Linked DNA regions of Homo sapiens. The protein of the gene in region 5 purifies or fractionates together with the protein of the main gene of each other region. This does not show direct contact. Each region holds a gene or a part of one and is shown on either strand. Other genes may lie near its edges. The genes, in order: NOS1AP, EIF3A, CSNK2A2, POF1B, ZCCHC17 and RPL22.

What was found.
Region 1: the proteins of ZCCHC17 (region 5) and NOS1AP purify together in Homo sapiens (affinity purification with mass spectrometry; 2 studies listed by BioGRID and IntAct, with this or other methods). This does not show direct contact.
Region 2: the proteins of ZCCHC17 (region 5) and EIF3A purify together in Homo sapiens (affinity purification with mass spectrometry; one large-scale study listed by BioGRID and IntAct). This does not show direct contact.
Region 3: the proteins of ZCCHC17 (region 5) and CSNK2A2 purify together in Homo sapiens (affinity purification with mass spectrometry; 2 studies listed by BioGRID and IntAct, with this or other methods). This does not show direct contact.
Region 4: the proteins of ZCCHC17 (region 5) and POF1B purify together in Homo sapiens (affinity purification with mass spectrometry; one large-scale study listed by BioGRID and IntAct). This does not show direct contact.
Region 6: the proteins of ZCCHC17 (region 5) and RPL22 purify together in Homo sapiens (affinity purification with mass spectrometry; 2 studies listed by BioGRID and IntAct, with this or other methods). This does not show direct contact.

What each region holds. Positions count from the first base shown.
Region 1 is NC_000001.11:162,352,691-162,356,190, reverse strand, and holds part of NOS1AP (carboxyl-terminal PDZ ligand of neuronal nitric oxide synthase protein), read right to left. Parts: intron 1,005-3,500; coding exon 838-1,004; intron 1-837. UniProt on the Homo sapiens protein: Adapter protein involved in neuronal nitric-oxide (NO) synthesis regulation via its association with nNOS/NOS1. The complex formed with NOS1 and synapsins is necessary for specific NO and synapsin functions at a presynaptic level.
Region 2 is NC_000010.11:119,039,318-119,042,817, forward strand, and holds part of EIF3A (eukaryotic translation initiation factor 3 subunit A), read right to left. Parts: intron 3,456-3,500; coding exon 2,677-3,455; intron 1-2,676. UniProt on the Homo sapiens protein: RNA-binding component of the eukaryotic translation initiation factor 3 (eIF-3) complex, which is required for several steps in the initiation of protein synthesis.
Region 3 is NC_000016.10:58,191,607-58,195,106, forward strand, and holds part of CSNK2A2 (casein kinase II subunit alpha'), read right to left. Parts: intron 1-3,500.
Region 4 is NC_000023.11:85,278,666-85,282,165, forward strand, and holds part of POF1B (protein POF1B), read right to left. Parts: exon of another isoform or gene 3,450-3,500; intron 762-3,449; coding exon 756-761; 3' UTR 1-755. UniProt on the Homo sapiens protein: Plays a key role in the organization of epithelial monolayers by regulating the actin cytoskeleton. May be involved in ovary development.
Region 5 is NC_000001.11:31,300,032-31,303,531, reverse strand, and holds part of ZCCHC17 (zinc finger CCHC domain-containing protein 17), read right to left. Parts: intron 1-3,500.
Region 6 is NC_000001.11:6,187,058-6,189,595, reverse strand, and holds part of RPL22 (large ribosomal subunit protein eL22), read left to right. Parts: intron 1-2,538.

The DNA.
Region 1 (3,500 bases), about 130 Mb from region 5:
GAAGGCCCCCAGTGACACAGGGCTGTTTCCACTTGTAGAGGATAAACTGGTTCCAAAGGAAACGTCAGGCAGCTAGTTTAGAACTGAACTGCCCTCCAAACCTCCATGTGAGATAAGATATGAATGTTAAAGAGAGAGAGGTGCCCTGATATAAACCGCCTGGGAATCTAAGGGTAGAGCTATTGGTCAGTAATTTTGCTTCTGGGTTTAAAACATTTTTAATTAGCTTTGGCTTCAGGTTGGAATTTGATCTCAAGTTCTTAGTTTCTTAATTGGATCACATTAGGAACCCCCAGATGCCACAGTCATCTCACCTATATGATGTTAGGTTAGAGCTGATGAAGACTAAGGTGGTCTCTCAGTTTCTGACATCCAGTGGGCCAACTTCCAGACTCCAAAGTGCTATCCACAGGAATTACCAACGGTATACCACCGCTACTGCAGGCAGAGCGGGCCCAAACTGACTTTGCTCTACTAGCTAAGTCACAGGGGAGTCTGTGTGTGTGTGTGCCAGAGTGAGCCTTGCAAAATACTGTGCAAAGATGAGATGCTGTTAAGGGAAGAGGGTGCCAGGGAGTAGGAGACCAAATATTGGTGGGATTTGGGGAGGGCGATGTGTGTCAGGAATCAGCTCCACAGCATCCTGGCCTGCAGCAGCATCTAGTGTTCAGACCCTCTGGAAGTCAGACCTTCTGAAAGGCAATGAAGTGCGCTCTGGCACCGCCACTGTGCCATGGAGTGCCTCACTCGGAAGCTGAGCTGGCAGGGGCTAGGAAGTGACTGATGACCTGAGGGCACACGTGTGCAGATCACACAGATGGGCCATCTCTTGCCTACCTTGGAGCCTGTGTGAGAGCCTCCTTCCTTCCCTACAGCATCTAGATCAGTCACACCTCGGCTGAATTCCAGGACATCATTCCCTGGAAGTGGGACCTCCACCGCATCGATGTCAGTCTCCTCTGCAGTGGCCGTGGAGGCCCTCTCGGCTCCAGTGAGCTGGCGGCCTGCAGGAACAACAGGGGAGGGAGGGAAGAGAATGAAAACACCGAGAACAAAGTCCTCCTTTCCTAATACTTTAGCTTTCAGGCATGTTGAGCCTAGGGATGCCACTGGCTTTGTAACATTTTCACACATCTTTTCACTCAAGTACGTTAAAGTGCATTTCCAGCCCAGTAAGATGTTCTCATCTTAGTATCTTTTCAAAGTCCAGAAAAAAAGGCAATACTTCCTCAAGCCTGGATGTAAAAGTTTTGCCAGGTTCACAGGAATATATTGACAAGGTACACTGGAAGAAGGGGATGCTGATCATCTCCATGTCATCGCAGCTCAGGAACGGAAGCAGTCAAGGGAAAGGGCCCTGGCCCGGGGGTCCAGAAATGAGGAGGTTGGGCCTCCAATAAACTGCTGGACAAGAAGCAAATCCCCTCACTCTCTGGGCCATGTTTCTTTAACTACAGAATTAGAAGCTCAGTTAGATGGACAGGTAGGGTTCCATGACTGAGGAATAAGGCAGGGAGATGTGAGGCTGCATTTTAACACAGTATCAATCTCCCAGCCCTCAGAGCCTGATCCTCTCACCAACAGCAGAAGCCAGGAAGACGCCTGCAGGAAGTGGCACGGGGAGGAGGAGAGAGATGGGGTGGCTGCTTTTCCATGCTTCCTTATCTAATTTTTCTACTTCCCACATTTCTTCCTTTCCACTGAAGACAATGGCCATGTCTTTACTTAATATTTAACCACAGGCACAGCATACTGCTTAATACCAATGTATGAAAGCCCTGCTATTTCCTACTTATCTTCCTTCCTTGATCCTATTTCTGGGATTCTGTAAAAACATCTGACAACTCCTGGGCATTTCATAGGAAATATTTTCATTTTCTATATTTGCAATTAGGTTAATTACTGCCGTCTTTAAATAAGATTTCTCATGAGTTTTCAGAGACCACGCACCAATTATAAAATGGAACAGGTGGATGTAAAGCAGGAGACACAGAGCTGATGCCCCAGTGCTGAAGCTAGCCCAGGCAACCAGGCCTTGGCCATTTGAGTGCTTGCCTTGTAGAACAAATTGTTCTAAGAAGTTTTCCTATGCAAACCTACACAAGTCATCAAGGGAAACAAGCCTGGCATTTAGAAAGTAAACAGTGGGCTTGGTTTTCTTCCTGGCTACTCCAGGAGCTGAGGAGACAGTCCTGTGGAGGGCTGCAAAGGCGTTTAACAGAAAAGATGGTTCTGACTGCAGCTAGTGGGGGCAGGGAAGGGGAAGCTCTTCTGCCCCTTGGTCAGCCAGTAGGCGGGGAGCACAGGGAGCAGCCTGCTTTCTACCACAGCCTGCACCTGGAAGTGACCGTCTTGATGGCTGGGTGCTTAGCCTGAGAGATGGAGGGTCGGTAGGTGGGTGGTGCTGGGAACTAAGCGTTTGGTTCTCCATGCCTGTACAGGAAAAAGCAGGGTGAAATTTCTATCAGTGATCAGGAGAAGCTGGGCTACTGCAGTGTTCTGTGCACTTAGCACATGATATTGGATGTGCCTGGCCATCAGTCTTCCCTTACAGACTTGAGGCCAGGCTGTGTCTCATTCATGTTTCCTAAAAATGTTTCTCTGGCACAGAGAAAGTGTTCCATAAATACTGACAAAGTAAGTAATGTAGTGACAGGGTAGCAAAACAGGAGAACAGGCTGCAGGAGAAGGCTGCTTATCTACTTCCCATCCCTGGAGATCCTAATAACAAGAACTAAGAAGCCCCAGACACAGAGGGTTTGGACAGGGCCTCGCCAGAAGCCCAGGTGGAATCAGAAAATTTGTCAGGTTTGGCCGGGCGCGGGGGCAGGGGCAGAGAGGCACAGAGGCAGGAAGTCCACGGCATGTCAGGCAATGCAAGTGGTCCCGTAGGGAGGGACCTGACCAGGACGAGTCAGCATTTTATCTTGAGGGACTGAAAGCAAGTAATACCAAAACATTTTCATCCTTCAAAATTTCACTCTAGATATAGTATGGAGGATAGATCCAGCAGCAATGAGAGAAAGTGATACTCTAGGTGGAAAATATGAGGGCTTGAGTGAAGACAATGGCAATAACATGGAGAAGAGATGGATTCGAAGGATCGTCAGGGGGCAGAAAGCACAGGGTTTGCTTGTCTGTGGTGGGGGCGGGGGTGGGGATATGTGCAGGATGAGTCTTAAAATATCTGATTCAGGTGACTGAATGGAGAATGGCATCCTATAGGAAAAATCCAGGAGAAGCAGGATTGCAGGTAAGAAGATGAGTTCAGTTTTAAACCTGTTGACATTGTAAGAGTCTGTGTAACAGTCAAGTAGGGATACCTATTAGGCTGTTGGGTATGTTATGGACTGAATGTTGGTGTTCATATGTCGAAGCCTTAGCTCCCAATGTAATAGCACTTGGAGATGAGCTTTTGGGAGGTAATTAGATCATGAGAATGCAGTCCTCATGATGGGATTCATGCCCTTATAAGAAGCGATGTAGGAGATCCCTCTCTT
Region 2 (3,500 bases), on a different chromosome or scaffold from region 5:
GAGATGTAAATTTGCTGGTGACCTCACTGTTTAAAATGGCCTCCAAGTGTAGTGCTAAAATGCTGTCTAGTGGCCAGGCGTGGTGGCTCATGCCTGTAATCTCAGGAATTTGGGAGGCTGAGGAGGGTGGATCCCTGGAGCCCAGGAGTTCAAGACCAGCCTGGGCAACATGGCAAAACCACATCTCTACAAAAAAATACAAAAATTAGCTGGGCTTGGTGGTGTGCACCTATAGTCTACTACTCAGGAGGCTGATGTGGTAGGATCTCTTGAGCCCAGGAGGCAGAGGTTGCGGTGATCTGAGATCACGCCACTGCACTCCAGCCTGGGAGACAGTGAGGCCCCACCTCAAAAAGAGAAAAAACAAATGCTGTTTAGTGGCCCCAAGCACAAGGTGGCTATGATATGCCTTAAGGAGAAAATACATGTATTAGATAAGCTTTGTTCATGAATGAGTTATAATGCTGTTGACCATGAATTCAATGGTAATGAATCAACAACATATCAGAAATAGGGAGTCTTTAAACACAAACACATAAAAGACATTTTATGTATTGATTGGTTGACAAAAATATCATGACTAGAAGCTTACAAGAACCTAACCTTGTATTTACCCTAGGAACATGAGTTCAGTATTCATGGCAACTGTATAAAATATAATTAGCAAATTAGTAAGAATCTGCTATACTGTTACCCCATTTAACATGAGGAAAAGAAAAATTAAATGTCTTACACAAGGTAACAGCCGAACAGCAGAATGAAGTGAGACTAGAAGAGACGAAGTAGGCAACAGAAACAACTGGGGAAAGCAAGGAAGCAGCTCACTTAGATCTGCACTTACAACAACTGCTCTGGTTATTTCCCTGACACCCAAAATTAAAACTGGGAGTAAGAGAGGCAGCAAAAACCAGTTAGCGGGTGAGGAAAATGATGCTGACCCAGGACCAAGTACAAGCAATGGGAATGGAGAGGAGGGTGGATTTCAGGAACATCAAAAAGGCAGAACTGAACTAAAGATTTAACATAAAGGATGAAACAGAGACAAAACAACTCCCAGAATCCTAGCTCAGACAGTTAGATGGACAGTGATGCCCCTGAAGAGAATCAGAGGGATGGGTGGGCGTGAACAAGTGCACGTGTATGTGATGGTAATGAGTCCAGTTTTGGATAGGCTGTGTTAGACATTCAGTAAGACTACCAAGTGGAGATGTGCTATATGCAGTAAGCAGCTGTCACCTGTGTGCAGTACGCAGAAATTACCTAGAGAAAACTGGCCGGGGCAGTGGCTCACGCCTGTAATCCTAGCACTTTGGGAGGCCGAGGTGGGTGGATCACTTGAGGTCAGGAGTTCGAGAGCAGCCTGGCCAACATGGTGAAACCCCATCTCTATTAAAAATACAAAAAAATGGCCGGGCGTGGTGGCTCATGCCTGTAATCCCAGCACTTTGGGAGGCTGAGGCAGGCGGATCAAGAGGTCAGGAGATCGAGACCATCCTGGCTACCATGGTGAAACCCCATCTCTACTAAAAATACAAAAAATTAGCCAGGCATAGTGGTAGGCACCTGTTGTCCCAGCTACTCAGGAGGCTGAGGCAGGAGAAGGGCATGAACCTGGGAGGCAGAACTTGCAGTGAGGGGAGATCGCGCCACTGCACTCCAGCCAGATGACAGAGCGAGACTCCGTCTCCAAAAAAAAAAAAAAAAAAAAAAATTAGCCATGCATGGTGGCATGTGCCTGTAGTCCCAGCTACTTGGGAAGCTGAGGCAGGAGAATTGCTTGAACCTGGGAGGCAGAGGTTGCAGTGAGCTGAGATCATACCACTGCACTCCAGCCTGGGAGACAGAGCAAGACTCCACCTCAAAAAGAAAAAAAATGGTAATAGACGCATGTCACAAACATGTATACAACTGCTCACGAATAATAAAGTGTGAAACAATAAGCAGGCCCAGGACTAAGAAAAAAAATGAGGCTGGGCGCAGCGCCTCACACCCGTTATCCCAGCACTTCACTTTGGGAGGGAGAGGCAGAAGGATAACTTGGGCCCAGGAGTTTGAGACCAGCCTGGGCAACATAGCGAAACCCCGTCTCTCCAAAAAATAAAATATTAGCAGGGTGTGGTGGCATGCGCCTGTAGTCCTAGCTACTCAGAAGGCTGAAGTGGGAGGCTCCCTAGGGTCCGGGAGGTCAAGGTTGCAGTGAGCCATGACTGCACCACTGCATTCCAGCCTGTGCAACAGAGCAAGACCCTGTCTCAAAAAAAGTAAAGTAAAATGAGTTCCTCCTTGCATAATCTCTCAGTTGGCAAAAATAAATATATAAAGTACATTTTGGTTTCAATTATTTATTTTTAAAAGGAGGCTGGTTCCCAGTAAAACCTGAAAAATACACCAATACTGAAAGCATGAGTACAGGAAGAGCCTTCAAAGAAGCAGTCATCGAAGCAGAAGGAAAACAAAGAGCACATCACTAAAGAAGAGAGGGGTTGGGTTATTTATGTTTTGGATGGTGGTATTCTGAAGGCAAACTTTTGACAGCGAAGTCACTGCAAATGATACTGAAGGAAAGATGAAAGACCAGTTTATCTGGAAAATAACAATACAGCCCTGATATTTATCCATCAGAATTTCACTTTTACAGGTGAACACTTAAGCATATTCTAGGAAATAGAATTTTACCTGGCTTGACTAATGGTCTCCAAGGACCAGGTCTTGAGTCATCACCCCGTCTGGGAAACCGATCATCATCAGCACGTCTTGAAAGGCGATCATCATCCATGTTTCTCCAAGGGCCCCTGTCATCCTCTGCACCACGCCTGGGAATTCTGTCATCATCGGCGTTCCTCCAAGGTCCTCGATCATCATCCAACCCTCGCCTGGGACCCCGGTCATCATCCATGCCTCGCCTGGGACCCCGGTCATCATCCATGCCTCGCCTGGGACCCCGGTCATCATCCATGCCTCGCCTGGGACCCCGATCATCATCCAACCCTCGCCTGGGACCCCGGTCATCATCAGCATTACGCCAGGATGATCGCTCATCATCAGCGCCTCCTCGCCTCGGCCCCCGGTCATCATCCATCCCACGTCTTGGTCCTCTGTCCTCATCAGCTGTTCGCCAGCTTCCTCTGTCCTCATCCAGTCCTCGTCTAGGTGGTCTGTCATCATCCGCATGACGCCAGTTTCCCCTGTCTTCATCGGCAATTCGTCTGGGAGGCCTGTCATCATCTGTGTTACGCCAGGAAGGCCGGTCATCGTCTGCCCCACGACGAGAGAACCTATCTTCCTCAGGACCACGTCTAGGGCCTCTGTCATCATCCATGCCACGCCGGGGAACCCGATCATCGTCTGGTCTAAGAGAGGGCTCTCTATCTTCATCATCCCCCAGACGCCGGGGCCGCTCTTCATCTCTTCTATGAGACCTGTCCTCATCTCGCCCTTCTCCACGTCTCCACTCCCTACACAGCAACAAGAACAATTAAAAATATATAAAATAAAAAAGC
Region 3 (3,500 bases), on a different chromosome or scaffold from region 5:
CCCACCTCGGCCTACCAAAGGGCTGGGATTACAGGCGTGAGGCACCGCGCCTAGCCTATGTTACATGTATTTTAACACAATTTTTTTTTAAAGGCAAGGCATAGAGCAGACCCTTTGAATCTCATTAGGAGAACACTACAACCCTTTCTACTATTGGTTCTGCCTCTAACATCACTCGCATGACCCAAATGTAATATTGTTATTACTACTATACTTTATTGATCTCTCAGGCCAGGCACTGTTTTAAGCACATTTAACCGTCTTAGATGAGCACTATTAACAGTTTTACTTGAGGAAGGACACCAAGGCACAGAGAACTTAAGTAACTGTTTGACGTCACAGAGCGTCTACAGTTGGAGCTAACACCTGAAACCAGGCAGACCACTTCCTAGGCCATACTCTCTCAGGAAAGAAAAGCATTTTGTAGATTACTAAAACATGACAATCAATCTCTCTACCCATCTATCTATAGTTTATCTGACTTTCCTAACAATCCTGTGACTTAAGCAGGAAATGTATGCTTATTTCATAGATGAGAAAACAGTCAAGTGGGTATCAATGAAGAAACTAGTTCTGGAACTCAAGCCTTCTGCCCTCTCATTTACAGCACTTCCTACACTACACCACCCTGATGATGAGATGGTAGATCCTGAAATTAAACTCTAGAAACTATCTGGAGCCCTGCTTTATACATGAAAATGGGCACACTATATCAAGATATTCTTTTCACATGTGGTTTGCTCTCAAATAAACTCATATATTAAAGGGATAAAACTATTAAACTATTAATCCCGAAATCTGCCAAGTGATCATGCTGAGACTTGGAGGAACTCTATGGGTTAAAAAAAAAAAAAACCATAAAAACACTATTTACTGAGGCTTCAAGAGAATAAAGCAGCATTTCATTGAAGCATTAAACATGCTGCTGTGGATACTAATCATAGAGAACGCCTGCCTGGGTCCCTATAGCCCTCGAGGACTCTTGGATTCCACACTTCAACTAGCAACTTACCAAAGTCAAACACTTCCTTTGAGAAAAATAACTCCAAAAATCATTAGAAACGAATTAACTTCATTTGACTCCTGGTGAGTGTTCCTCAATTCTTCCAGTACAGATCAGGACATCACAAAGTCAAACATCCAGCTAATGTCCTAATTATGCTCCTCGCATCTACCAAGACTTCATGACAGGTACACAAGGTCCTACACCGAGTGCTTCCACCCCCTGACTACATGACGCTGAGCATATACATCCTTTCTCTGGGTCTTGGTTGATTTGTAAAAAGGGCCTGGGTTCTAATGGTTTCTAGGTTTCTAAGTGCCCGCATTCTGCGATTCTGTTTGACACAGGTTAACTACACTCTTAATCTGTGACTCCCCAGTACAATGCTGGAAACGGCCTAGTTCACATATAATTTTTAACATTATTTTTAATGTTAGCAATACTTTAGTGATACTGTTTGCACTACTTTTATACCATGAGACATTAGTGAAAATCAGAATGTACCAAAAACTTAGATAAATACCACTAATGTGTTGTTTCAGGAAGATGTCTTCATACACATGCCTAAATTTAGGAGGGTAAAAAACCTACCACAGGAGAAATAAAGAGGAAATAAAGAGGAAAGCACCATTCTGATATAATATAAAGATCACCAGCTCACGATGAAGCTACTAACAAAGATGTATAACCAATGCCCATCCTTTTAACACTACCTACTGACAACACAGAACTTAAAAAATATCTGCAAGTATGCTAAACATGCTTAAAGAGCAAAATTTTAATACCACCACCCTTTGTTTAAAGCTAAATAATTAATATCTAGGGGAAAATGGATAGTCAATCTGTTTATAAAATAAGACCTCTAAGAGGAAGCCTTATATGGGAATTTCCAAGTCATTTTGCACTGGTTCAAAATGCTGTTTTTTAAAAATAGTGTTGCTCTTAACTTTTATTCAAGAAATAGCAGTTTAATTTGAAAGATCCCAAGGACCCCAAGAAGTACTGAAATCTACACACACAGGCAGTATTCATAAAATGCTAAAAGTTGTCAAAGGTGGCCACTTTTACTTCTGTGTACACTTTTCTAAGAGGTACTACAAAGGAAATGAAGAACTGATTTTTCAAAATCAAAAGATGAAACTTTTGGCACTAATGTAGCTTTCTGCCCTGCCATATAAACGCTTACCATTTTCCTCCTCCTTTTTCTCTTTTCTCCTCAAAACAATTTGTCAAAAAAAGATACAACCTCTCTATTGATTGGAAAGTTTTAAGATTTTAGCCACAGAATACCACTTGGGGATAGACAGTAAAATTTTGCTCACCAGTTTCTAAATTCCTAAAACTTTTTAGCAGCTCATTTTTGATCAATACCTGGAAATCCACTAATGCAAATTAAATGATATAAAATTCCTCTGTAGTCACTCATCATCCACCCATTCTCACATATATTGCAAAGAACTGATACGAAACGTTACTGACTACAAAAGTAAGACCACTTGTCCTCAAGAAAGCCACCCTCTATCTTGGTCACTATGTGCATAATACAATCCTGCAGCTAAAATACAGCAGGCTTTTACAAAAAGGAAGGCTGTTCTAGATTCTTCCAAGTTATGAGGAGCTGGTAGTCTGTTAAGGACCTAATTTCCTATGACCAAGCACCACAATAGTAGCTATTAGTCATAACTTCAACTTATTTGAATAAAGAAACACAACTTTGGCTAAAGACCTTGTTACCCTGTTCTTTTTAAAAAGTAATACTTTTAATTCACAAAACAACAAAACCACAATAATGCCATTAGTGATATATTACCCCATCCTTCAGACAGGAACAAAATCTGGATAGAAATGCCACCGGGCTTTAAAAAACATAAAGAAGTGAGTCTAATTTTCACTAGTGGTTTAGGCTGCACTGTGAAAACAAACAACATCAAGAAGAAACAAGAAACATTTCATTAACTAGGGGCCTCCCAAGTCTGATTCCAGGACACTGGTACCTGTTTCTGTGCTCAACGTTCAGATCCTACAATCCAGTGCTAAAATGAACAGTAAGAGATATGAAGAAATAGGAAACAGGAGTTCTGGCTAATGGTCATTCAACATAATGACATTAGGTAAGTTTCTTTGTGCCTAGGTCTCCCATTTGTAAAGATAACCTGCAGCAGCTTACATACTGGGTTTCCTAACATACGCCAAGAATCTTTAAAGTAGGGGGAAAGCTAGAGCCTATAAAGCTCTTTGGATGATGAAGCAGCAATGCGATGCTCTCCTAAATGAACATGCTGGTATTTATACACACACCTGAATGCTGTTCCTTTAAAAAAAAAAAAGCACCACAGAAAATCATACACTTATTCTAAAAATGCTGCCATAGCACAAAAGTTCAGACATTTTTCTGGAATTGCTTTAGAGTCAGCAATTCATTCTTCTGAATATACAGCAGTGGAATATGGATATTCCTAATTTCAATTTACGTTTTGCTTATTTCTTAGATTTGAAG
Region 4 (3,500 bases), on a different chromosome or scaffold from region 5:
CCACATTGTGTTATATGTTTTTTAAGAAGTAGGTAGGCTCATTTGGGGAAGGTATGCTTTGAAAGAACAGATTTGCCAAGGGACTAATATGTACTTAGAACCAGAATAGCATACTGTATAATTTAGTGGACTTAGTTATTTCAAAAGATATTATTCCACTTCCCTGCTAAATGAAATTAATCATCACCTTTGACTTTCAAGAGGTGAAAATAGCGTGTAATAAAGCATATCTTTTAGTCATCAGGCCTACTGTGAAAAGCAAATACAGACTGTATATATTATATACTAGCTGTTATTTTTTGCTTCAATTGTATTTTATCTCTTTTGTTAAAAAAACATGATTTCATCTTGTAACTGAACTGCACATATAATATCAGAGAAAATCTTCTAATGGCATGACTTGTAAAATCTCTACCCCAACAAATTAGTTTGATATCTAGGAGTTACCTTATCTGAAACATAATGAGTTATGTTCTACAGTGTCTGCAATCAAACTTTAAACAATCAGGTCCCTCTTTCAGTTAGTATGTTGTTATACTGAATACATGAGTGTTATGGAAAAGATTTAGGTCTCATAAATGGGTGAAGAAATTGTCATCTACAGAACTAATTCATTCCATTAGATTTCTTGGGTAGCAGCATGGTTCCAAATTCTGATTGGCCTTTAGTGATGGAAAAATAACAAAGTACTAATGCAGAGACACACACACAAAAAAAAAACGGCTTTGAGTTGTAATACTTTAAAGTGGATCCATTCATGGCTAGAAAAGAAAAAAAAAGGTTATCTTACAACTGGTTCATAATTAAAGTCATTGTTACTATATGCAAAGTTATGGAAAATTATTTAAATTGGTATGTATAAAACCAAAGGACATGTATTGCACTTTTGTGGCACTCTTTTATATATATATATTCAATGAAACAATGATTTGTCTTTCTTACTTTACTCATGGTATGTTTCAAATGACTTTAAGCAAGAGTGAAGGACAATTAAGTAGATTTCCTTCTTAGTAATATTTAGAGTTTAAATATGTCCAATTGTCTCTTAATAAATATGGATTTTCATCTGTGAATGCATTTAAATATATTCTGACCTTGCTATCAGTATCTATAGATTCTTCAAATATCAATTTTGATTTTTACTGCTGCACATTTTTAATGGAGAGAGAAGTAGTGGCTACTATTCTGTAGAAACTTTATTTGGCAGGTCTTCATATTGCCACCTCTGGGATACATGTGGTTAGGGTTAGTGGCAGCAATTGCTTCTCAGTCTTAACTTTGGGCATCAAATTATCTTTGAGTGGCCAATTTTAAATTCTATGGGTTAATAATTAGTAGTAAGTAATTTTCAGCTAACTAATGACCTAACAAAAACAACATTTCAGAGTTTAAATGCAGTTATTTTTACTTTGGGATTACTAAACATTGGTTGTTTTCATTGATGATAACAACCATACTTAAAAGATTGATGGCTGGATTGTAGTTAAAGAAGGGCTTCAGCTCTAAAGAAACTTTTTGAATTTTTTTGTTGACTCAAATATTTGAGCTTGTTCAACCAAAAGATGTTTCTAGAAGTTATTTAACAGATGTTTAGATGTTTAATTTTATTAACTATACATCTGAAGCATAATTTTTAAATATTTTTCAAAAGGTTCTGCAGAATACTGGATTGATATTTGTATATTTGTCTATTGCTCACCACGGTACACTTAAGCATTTTAAGGCTTTTACTGAAGTACAATAAACATGTAGAAAGAAATGGACATATTATAAGTATTCAAATAAATGAATTTTCCCAAACCGAACATGCATATGTAACCATCTCCCAGATAAAGAAACAGAACATTATTAAGACCTTGAATCTCTCCTTATGCTTCCTTTTAATCAGTATCCATCCCACAAGGATAACCATTTCTTCATTTAATAGCCATAGATTTAGTTTTGCCTACTTTTATACCTCAGTAGTTTGACAGGTAGATAATTTTATCATAAGAAGTCAAAGGCTGTCATTTTCACAATGTTTTAAGTCAGATCTGTATGATTTGAGAACTAGAATCCTCAAACATTTCTCTGTTCATTTCACCAGAAGGATATCACACATTCCTATGATCCCTACCAGTGGCTTACTATTAGAATCTCTTGCACCAGTGTAGGAGTATATAATTAGGAAAAAAACCCAAGAGCATTCTGTTAGCAGAGTTTTTCAACCTCAACACTACTTATTAGGGGCTGGATAATTCTTTGTTATGGGAGACTGTCCTGCACATCGTAGTATGTTCAGAAGCATCCTAGTTCTCTAACCACTAGATGCCAATAACACCCACCCCTCTGGTTGTGAAAACCAAAAATGTCTCTAGACATTGCTAAATGTCCCGTAAGGTACAAAATTGTTGCTGTAGAGAGCAACTGTGCTAGGGAATATATAGTTGGCCCTTGGTATTCATGGGTTCCCCACCAATGATGGGTTGAAAATATTCAGGAAAAAAATCATTTCTGTACTGAACATGTACAGACTTTTTTTTTTTTTTACTGTTATTACCTCCTAAACAAGACGGTATGACACGTACTTAGAATTTACATTGAATTAGTTATTGTAAGCTAGAAATGACTTAAAGTATACAGTAAGATGTGCATAGGTTATATGCAAATATTATGCCGATAAGGGACTTGAGCATCTACAGATTTTGATATCTGTAGGGGATCCTGGAACCAATCTCTCATGGATATTGAGGGACAACTATATATCCCCTATTTGATGATCATTACTTTAAAAGTTAATAGAGCAATATGTAAAAGTTTTAGGGAAGTAGCTCTCAGTCCTTTATAAGAAGGTTTCAATAATCAGTCCCCTTAGCAATGGATTGGACCACTTAGAAAGATGCTAAGGTCCATGTCACCTGGCCATTTTGGAGGATGTTGTAGAAGGTAGAGTAAATATTGGAGTATATGATGTTTAAAGTACTCTTCAGCAACCTCACTATAACTGTGGGATTTAAGGCTGGAGGATGTTACAGTCTAGTGAGGAAGCTAGAAACATCTCTTCTTTCTAAATCCTAATATATATAATATATATATATATAAAATCCACAGGAATAAGTACCACATGCAAGATTGCAAGACAAATTCTATTGAAACATGCCTCTTCTCCATTTTCCAGTTGCCTTCATAATTGTCTATGATATTTGCTACCTGCTTTAGAAAAAGGGAAACTGTTTTGGAAAATTTTAATGGAACCCATTCAATAACTACCGAGCTAGGCAAGAAAATAAATAAAATTAGCATATCACTAATGTTAATCTTCTTCCTTTTGAGGGGCAAAAATTATATTTATATTATAGCTTAAATAATCAATTATATTGCCACATGTATGAATCTTTCCAAAATTTGTTAATTCCCACTGTATATCAATAATGGAAACAGAAAATCTCAAAAGAAAAAAATACTCAAAGTTTTTAGTTCATTTGATATTTTACCTCAATTTTAAAAGGCTGTACATATAT
Region 5 (3,500 bases):
TCATTTAATGTGTCACCTTACTGACCTGGTCAAGATTTTTGTTGTTATCATTTTCCAGCTTGTTTGGATTTAGATTTTTTTGTTACTTGAGTACTAATTGACTAGAACCCTAAGAATTTAAAGGAATTTTAGTTTATCTTTAAGCTGTGCTGGAATTGTGAGCAAAGTAAGCTAACTAAAACTACTAGGATATGAACAGAGACAGAATAATGACTCCAGAGCCTGCACTGTTTGCTTTGTTTTTTGTTTTGAGGCAGGGTCTCACTCTGTTGTCCAGGCCGGAGTGCAATGGTCCAAACATGGCTCCCTGCAGCCTTGACCTCCTGGGCTCAAGCTATCCTCCCGCCTCAGCCTCCCAAGTAGCTGGGACAGAAACACACCAACGAGCTTGGCTAATTTTTTTTTTTTTTGAGGGGGGGTAGAGACTGGATTTCATTATGTTGCCCAGTCTGGTCTTGAACTCCTGGCTCAAGCAATCCTCCTACCTCAGCCTCCCAAAGTGCTGAGATTACAGGCATGAGCCATGGCACCCGGCCAAGAGCCTGCATTCTTAAGCACTATACCTCAAAAAGAATTCACAATCGAATATGGTTTGGCTTTGTGTCCTCACCCAAATTTCATCTTGAACTGTAATCCCCACATGTTGGGGGAGGGACCTAGTGGGAGGTGACTGGATCATGGCAGTTTCCCACAGTCTGTTCTCATGATAGTGACAGAGTTTTCACGAGATCTGATGGTTTAAATGTGGCAGTTTCTCTTGCTCTCTCTCTCTCTCCTCTGACACCACTTAAGACGTGCCTTGCTTCCCCTTCACCTTCTGCCATGAGTTATAAGTTTCCTGAGGACTCCCCAGCAATTCAGAACTGTGAGTCAATTAAACCTTTCTCCTTTATAATTACCCAGTCTCAGGGAGTTCTTTAGAGCAGTGTGAAAATGGGCTAATACACGGTCTAAATCTAAATTTTGTAGAATATAGCTCTAACACTAACTAGGTCCCAACATTAGAGGAATCAATGTGGATATCATTCATGGAAGAGCTAGGATGAGCAACGTCTGGATCCATTCATTCAAACATGAAACCAAGGACCATTTCTCATTTGATTTTGTGTTCCTGGGGTCTGGTATACTACAAGTACTCAGTTTTTTTTAAATGAGTGAACTGAGCCTCACTATATGCCAAGCACAGGTAGAGAAAGAGGGGGGAACACATTCTGGTCTAAAGGATATAGAAGAAGAAGGAGCTAGGTCCCATTTAATATGTTGGACAGATCAACAGATGGAACACTTCTTTTTTCTTTTTTTTTAAGATGGAGTCTCGCTCTGTTGCCCAGGCTGGAGGGCAGTGGTGCGATCTCGACTCACTGCAACCTCCACTTCCCGGGTTCAAGTGATTCTGTCACCTCTGCCTCCCAAGTAGCTGGGACTACAGGCATGCAACACCATGCCCAGCTAATTTGTGTACTTTTAGTAGAGACATGGTTTCACCATGTTGGCCAGGTTGGTCTCAAACTCCTGACCTCAAGTGATCTGCTCGCCTCGGCCTCCCAAAGTGTTAGGATTACAGGTGTGAACCACCGCACCCGGCCGGGACACTTTCAAATGTCAAACTGGTGGTCCAACTTTCCTCCCTCCCACCAAATTCTAGAGTGACCATGTAAGATAGATGCTTCTTGCTTTCAAATTCCAGTCGTGGACCTGTTGAGAAAATAGCCAAAAGCAGGAAAGAGGAATAGTAAAATGCCAGGAAAAACACAAAAGATGAACTCAGAAAATGTAAAAACTTAAAGGAATTATGGAAATAATTAAACCTATTACTCTTAGGCCACTGAAAATGAAGCCAAGTGATTTGACAAAGGCTGCTCACAGTTAGCAACATTGGTATAAGACCCCAGGATCAGCACTTATTCTACCACTCGACACTACACTTTCAGTCAATTATTCCTAAGATCCCTTCAAAGTCTTATAATAGCTAATATTTGAGTGCTTCATATCTGCCATGTATTAATCTAAGAGCTTTACTTCTCTTAACTAATTTTTCTTTTTAAAATTTTATCTTCATGACATTCAATAATTCTCTTCTTGACTATCCCATAAAACAGGCAATTATCATTGCCATTTTAAAAATGAGGACACAAGAGAAGCTAAGTAAACTCGCTCAAGATTGCAAAATATGAATGATGGGGATGGGATTCAAATCATTTTTAGGGACATTTTTTTCCTCCCTTTGTAGAGTGTGGAACTCTTGTAAGCATGCCTTTGTCTTGCACATCATCATATCCTTCCTCCCCAAATCTCCAGTGCCTAGCACAGTGTAACACACATGGAAATTGTCTACTAAAATAGTGAAGTATTTAATTTTACCCCATTTAAATTGTTAATTCATCAATTCAGTATGCTATTGATTGATGTTTATATATAAGGTACTTTATAAACCTGCTTTCAATCCCTAAAACTCCTCTACAAAGCAAGTAATCCTATTTTACAGGAATGAAATAACTTGTCCAAAACAACACAGCAAGAAAGAGACAAATCTTAGGCCATTCCAAGGGCCACACACACTTGCCACTAAACCACCCTTTTTTTTCTTTTTTTTTTTTTGAGACAGAGTTTTGTTCTTGTCACCCAGGCTAGAGTGCAATGGCGCGATCTTAGCTCACTGCAACCTCCTCCCAGGTTCAAGCGATTCTCCTGCCTCAGCCTCCCGAGTAGCTGGGATTACAGGCACACACCACCATGCCCAGCTGATTTTTATATTTTTAGTAGAGACAGGGTTTCACCATATTGGTCAGGATGGTCTCGAACTCCTGACCTCAGGTGATCCACCTGCCTCGGCCTCCCAAAGTGCTGGGATTATAGGAGTGAGCCACAGCACCCGGCCTAAACCACCCTTTTCAACACAGTCCCTGTTCTCAAAGACCTCCTAATCTGATAGGGATATCAGATATCATCATTCCAACAACACTCTAAACTCCCTTTAACTCTGTCTTTATATTTAACTATCTGGCAGTATGTCTAACCTAGCCCGGGACAGTTGCAGACAACAGAACCCACTTAAGCAGAAAGGGATGTATTGCAATAACAGACTTTGGCGGAACTTCCAGGAACAACACCTAACCCACAAAATAACACCAATTACACTGCAATGTGATAAGTGCTAAAGCAGAAGCTTGGGGGCCAGGCATGGTGGCTTATGCCTATAATCGTAGCACTTTGGGAGACCAAGGCAGCAAGATCACTTGAGGCCAGGAGTTTGAGACCAGCCTGGACAACATGGCAAGACCTTATCTCTATAAAAAATACAACAATTAGCCAGGCATGGTGGCACATACCTGTTATCCCACCTACTGGAGAGGCTGAGGTGGGAGGATCACTGGAGCCTGGGAGGTCGAGGCTACAGTGAGCCATAATCATGCCACTGCAATCGGCCTGGGCAACAGAGTAAGACTGTCTCAAAACAAACAAACAAAAGTAGTAGCTAGGAAGAGAAAGAGGGTCTGGGG
Region 6 (2,538 bases), about 25 Mb from region 5:
CAGTGTACTATTAGGGATTTTTTTTTTTCCTTTTTTTTAGATAGGGTCTTACTCTGTCACCAAGGCTGGAGAGCAGTGGGGTGATCATAGCTCACTCTAGCCTCCATCTCCTGGCTCAAACAGTCCTACCTCAGCCTCCCAAATAGCTGGGACTACACGAGTGCCCCACCATGTCCGGCTATGTCAGGGAACATTTCAACCACCTGAAATTTTGAATTAACCTCATCTGAATACAATATGGTGGAAATAATTGACAAAAGTATACTTTTTAGATGGAATGACCAAATTGATTTATCTTTGCTTAGCAAAAAGTGGACAGTTGAATTGAGATCTTCACACTTTGTGGCGATTGCTTTGTTGGTGTGGAGATTGCTTTGTTGGTGTGGAGATTGCTTTGTTGGTGTGGAGATTGCTTTGTTGGTGTGGAGCACTGTCACAGTGCTCCTTTTTTGGAGATGGTGAGTCTGTTGGTTCATGACATTTGGGTCCTGTGAATATGCCAGGGATCCATGCTGAGCGCGGTGGCTCACGCCTGTAATCCCAGCACTTTGGGAGGCCCAGACGGGTGGATGACCTGAGGTCGGGAGTTCCAGACCAGCCTGACCAACATGGAGAAACCCCGTCTCTTACTAAAAATACAAAATTAGCTGGGCGTGGTGGCACATGCCTGTAATCCCAGCTACTCGGGAGGCTGAGGCAGGAGAATTGCTTGAACCCGGGAGACGGAGGTTGAGGTGAGCCGGAGATCGTGCCATTCCAGCCTGGGCAACAAGAGCGAAACTCCGTCTCAAAAAAAAAAAAAATGCCAGGGATCTCTCTGAGCATCTCATGTAATCCTTGCTATGGTCTGAAGAGATGGTTAGTAGCAGGGATCCCCTTTCACTGTGGGAGAAACAGCTTGGGTAGATGAATTGGCTCTGCTGTGGGTTTGTGTGTTGTGAAATTCCCTCTTTATGGCTTGGGAAGATTCGGAATAGCCTCAGGGCCACGGAAGCAAGCCGGTGAGAGAGCTGCCAAGACTGTGGTGCACTTCATCTTTTTTTTTTTTAATTAAAAAAAAAAATGTTGTGTAGAGACAGGGTCTTGCTATGTTGCCTAGGCTGGTCTCGAACTCCTAGATTCAAGGGATCCTCTCACCTTGGCCTCACAAAGTGTTGGGATTACAGGCGTGAGCCACTGTGCCCAGCCCTTAGGTCATCTTTATGTAGTTAGGGTGTTGGGCACAAAAGCCAGTTTTTGCCTTTCCATAAAGAATGAGTGTTTTGGCTGGTCGCAGTGGCTCACAGCTATAATCCCAGCACTTCGGGAGGCTGAGGTGGGCAGACACTTGAGGCCAGGAGTTCGAGACCAGACTGGCCAATATGGCAAAACCCCCATCTCTACTGAAATTACAAAAATTAGCTGGACATGGTGTTATACACCTGTAATCCCAGCTACATGGGAGACTGAGGCATGAGAATTGCTTGAATCCTGGAGGCAGAGGTTGCAGTGAGCCTGGGCCACAGAAGGAGATTCTGTCTAAAAAAATAAATAAAAGAGTTTTTAAATGATCCCTGTTGTGGTGAGTGTTTAGCTCTCACCTGGCTAAAGCAGCAATTGGGCAGGCTGACTGAAAGGCTTTGTGCTCTCTGGGCGTGAGCGCAGTGGCAGGGTGGCATTCTGTCCCTGTGTGTTGGGTGGTGAGCAGGAGCGAGTGTGTGCACACCCCTAAGAAGCAGTCCTCATCATCCAGACAACCTCAAAAGGGGGTTTGACTCCGTGAGGTGATGTGTGCGCAGCGCTTACAGCTCTTTGGAAACCCACTATTTTCTGCATAAAAGGTATTGAGGTTGCGTACTTAACTGTAAATTTCTATCATGTTATCTTTCTCCAGTGGTCACTAAAAACCATGTTATAGGTGTTTGCTGCATTTTCATGGACAACTGGTACATCTACTTATCTACTTATCTGCTCTTGTTTTTTTTTTTTGTTTTTTTTTTTTTGAGATGGAGTCTTGCTCTGTCGCCCAGGCTGGAGTGCAATGGCGCCATCTCGGCTCACTGCAGCCTCTGCCTCCCGGGTTCAAGCGATTCTCTTACCTCAGCCTCCTGACTAGCTGGGACTACAGGCGCCCAGCACGACGTCTGGCTAATTTTTTGTATTTTTAGTAGAGATAGGGTTGCATCGTGTTAGCCAGGATGGTCTCCGTTTCCTGACCTCATGATCCGCCTGCCTCAGCCCTCCAAAATGCTGGGATTACAGGTGTGAGCCAGTGCCCCTGGCCTAGTTTTTTTTCTTTTTTCTTTTTTTGGAGGCAGTCTTGCTCTGTCACCCAGGCTGGAATACAGTGGTACAATCTTAGCTCACTACACCCTCCGCCTCCTGGATTCAAGGGATCCTCATGCCTCAGCCTCCCGAGTAGCTGGGATTACAGGCGTGCACCACCACGCCCAGCTAATTTTTTTATTTTTAGTAGAGATGGGGTTTCACCATGTTGTTCAGGCTGGTCTCGAACTCCTGACCTCAAGTGATCTGCCTGCCTTGGCCTCCCAAAGCGCT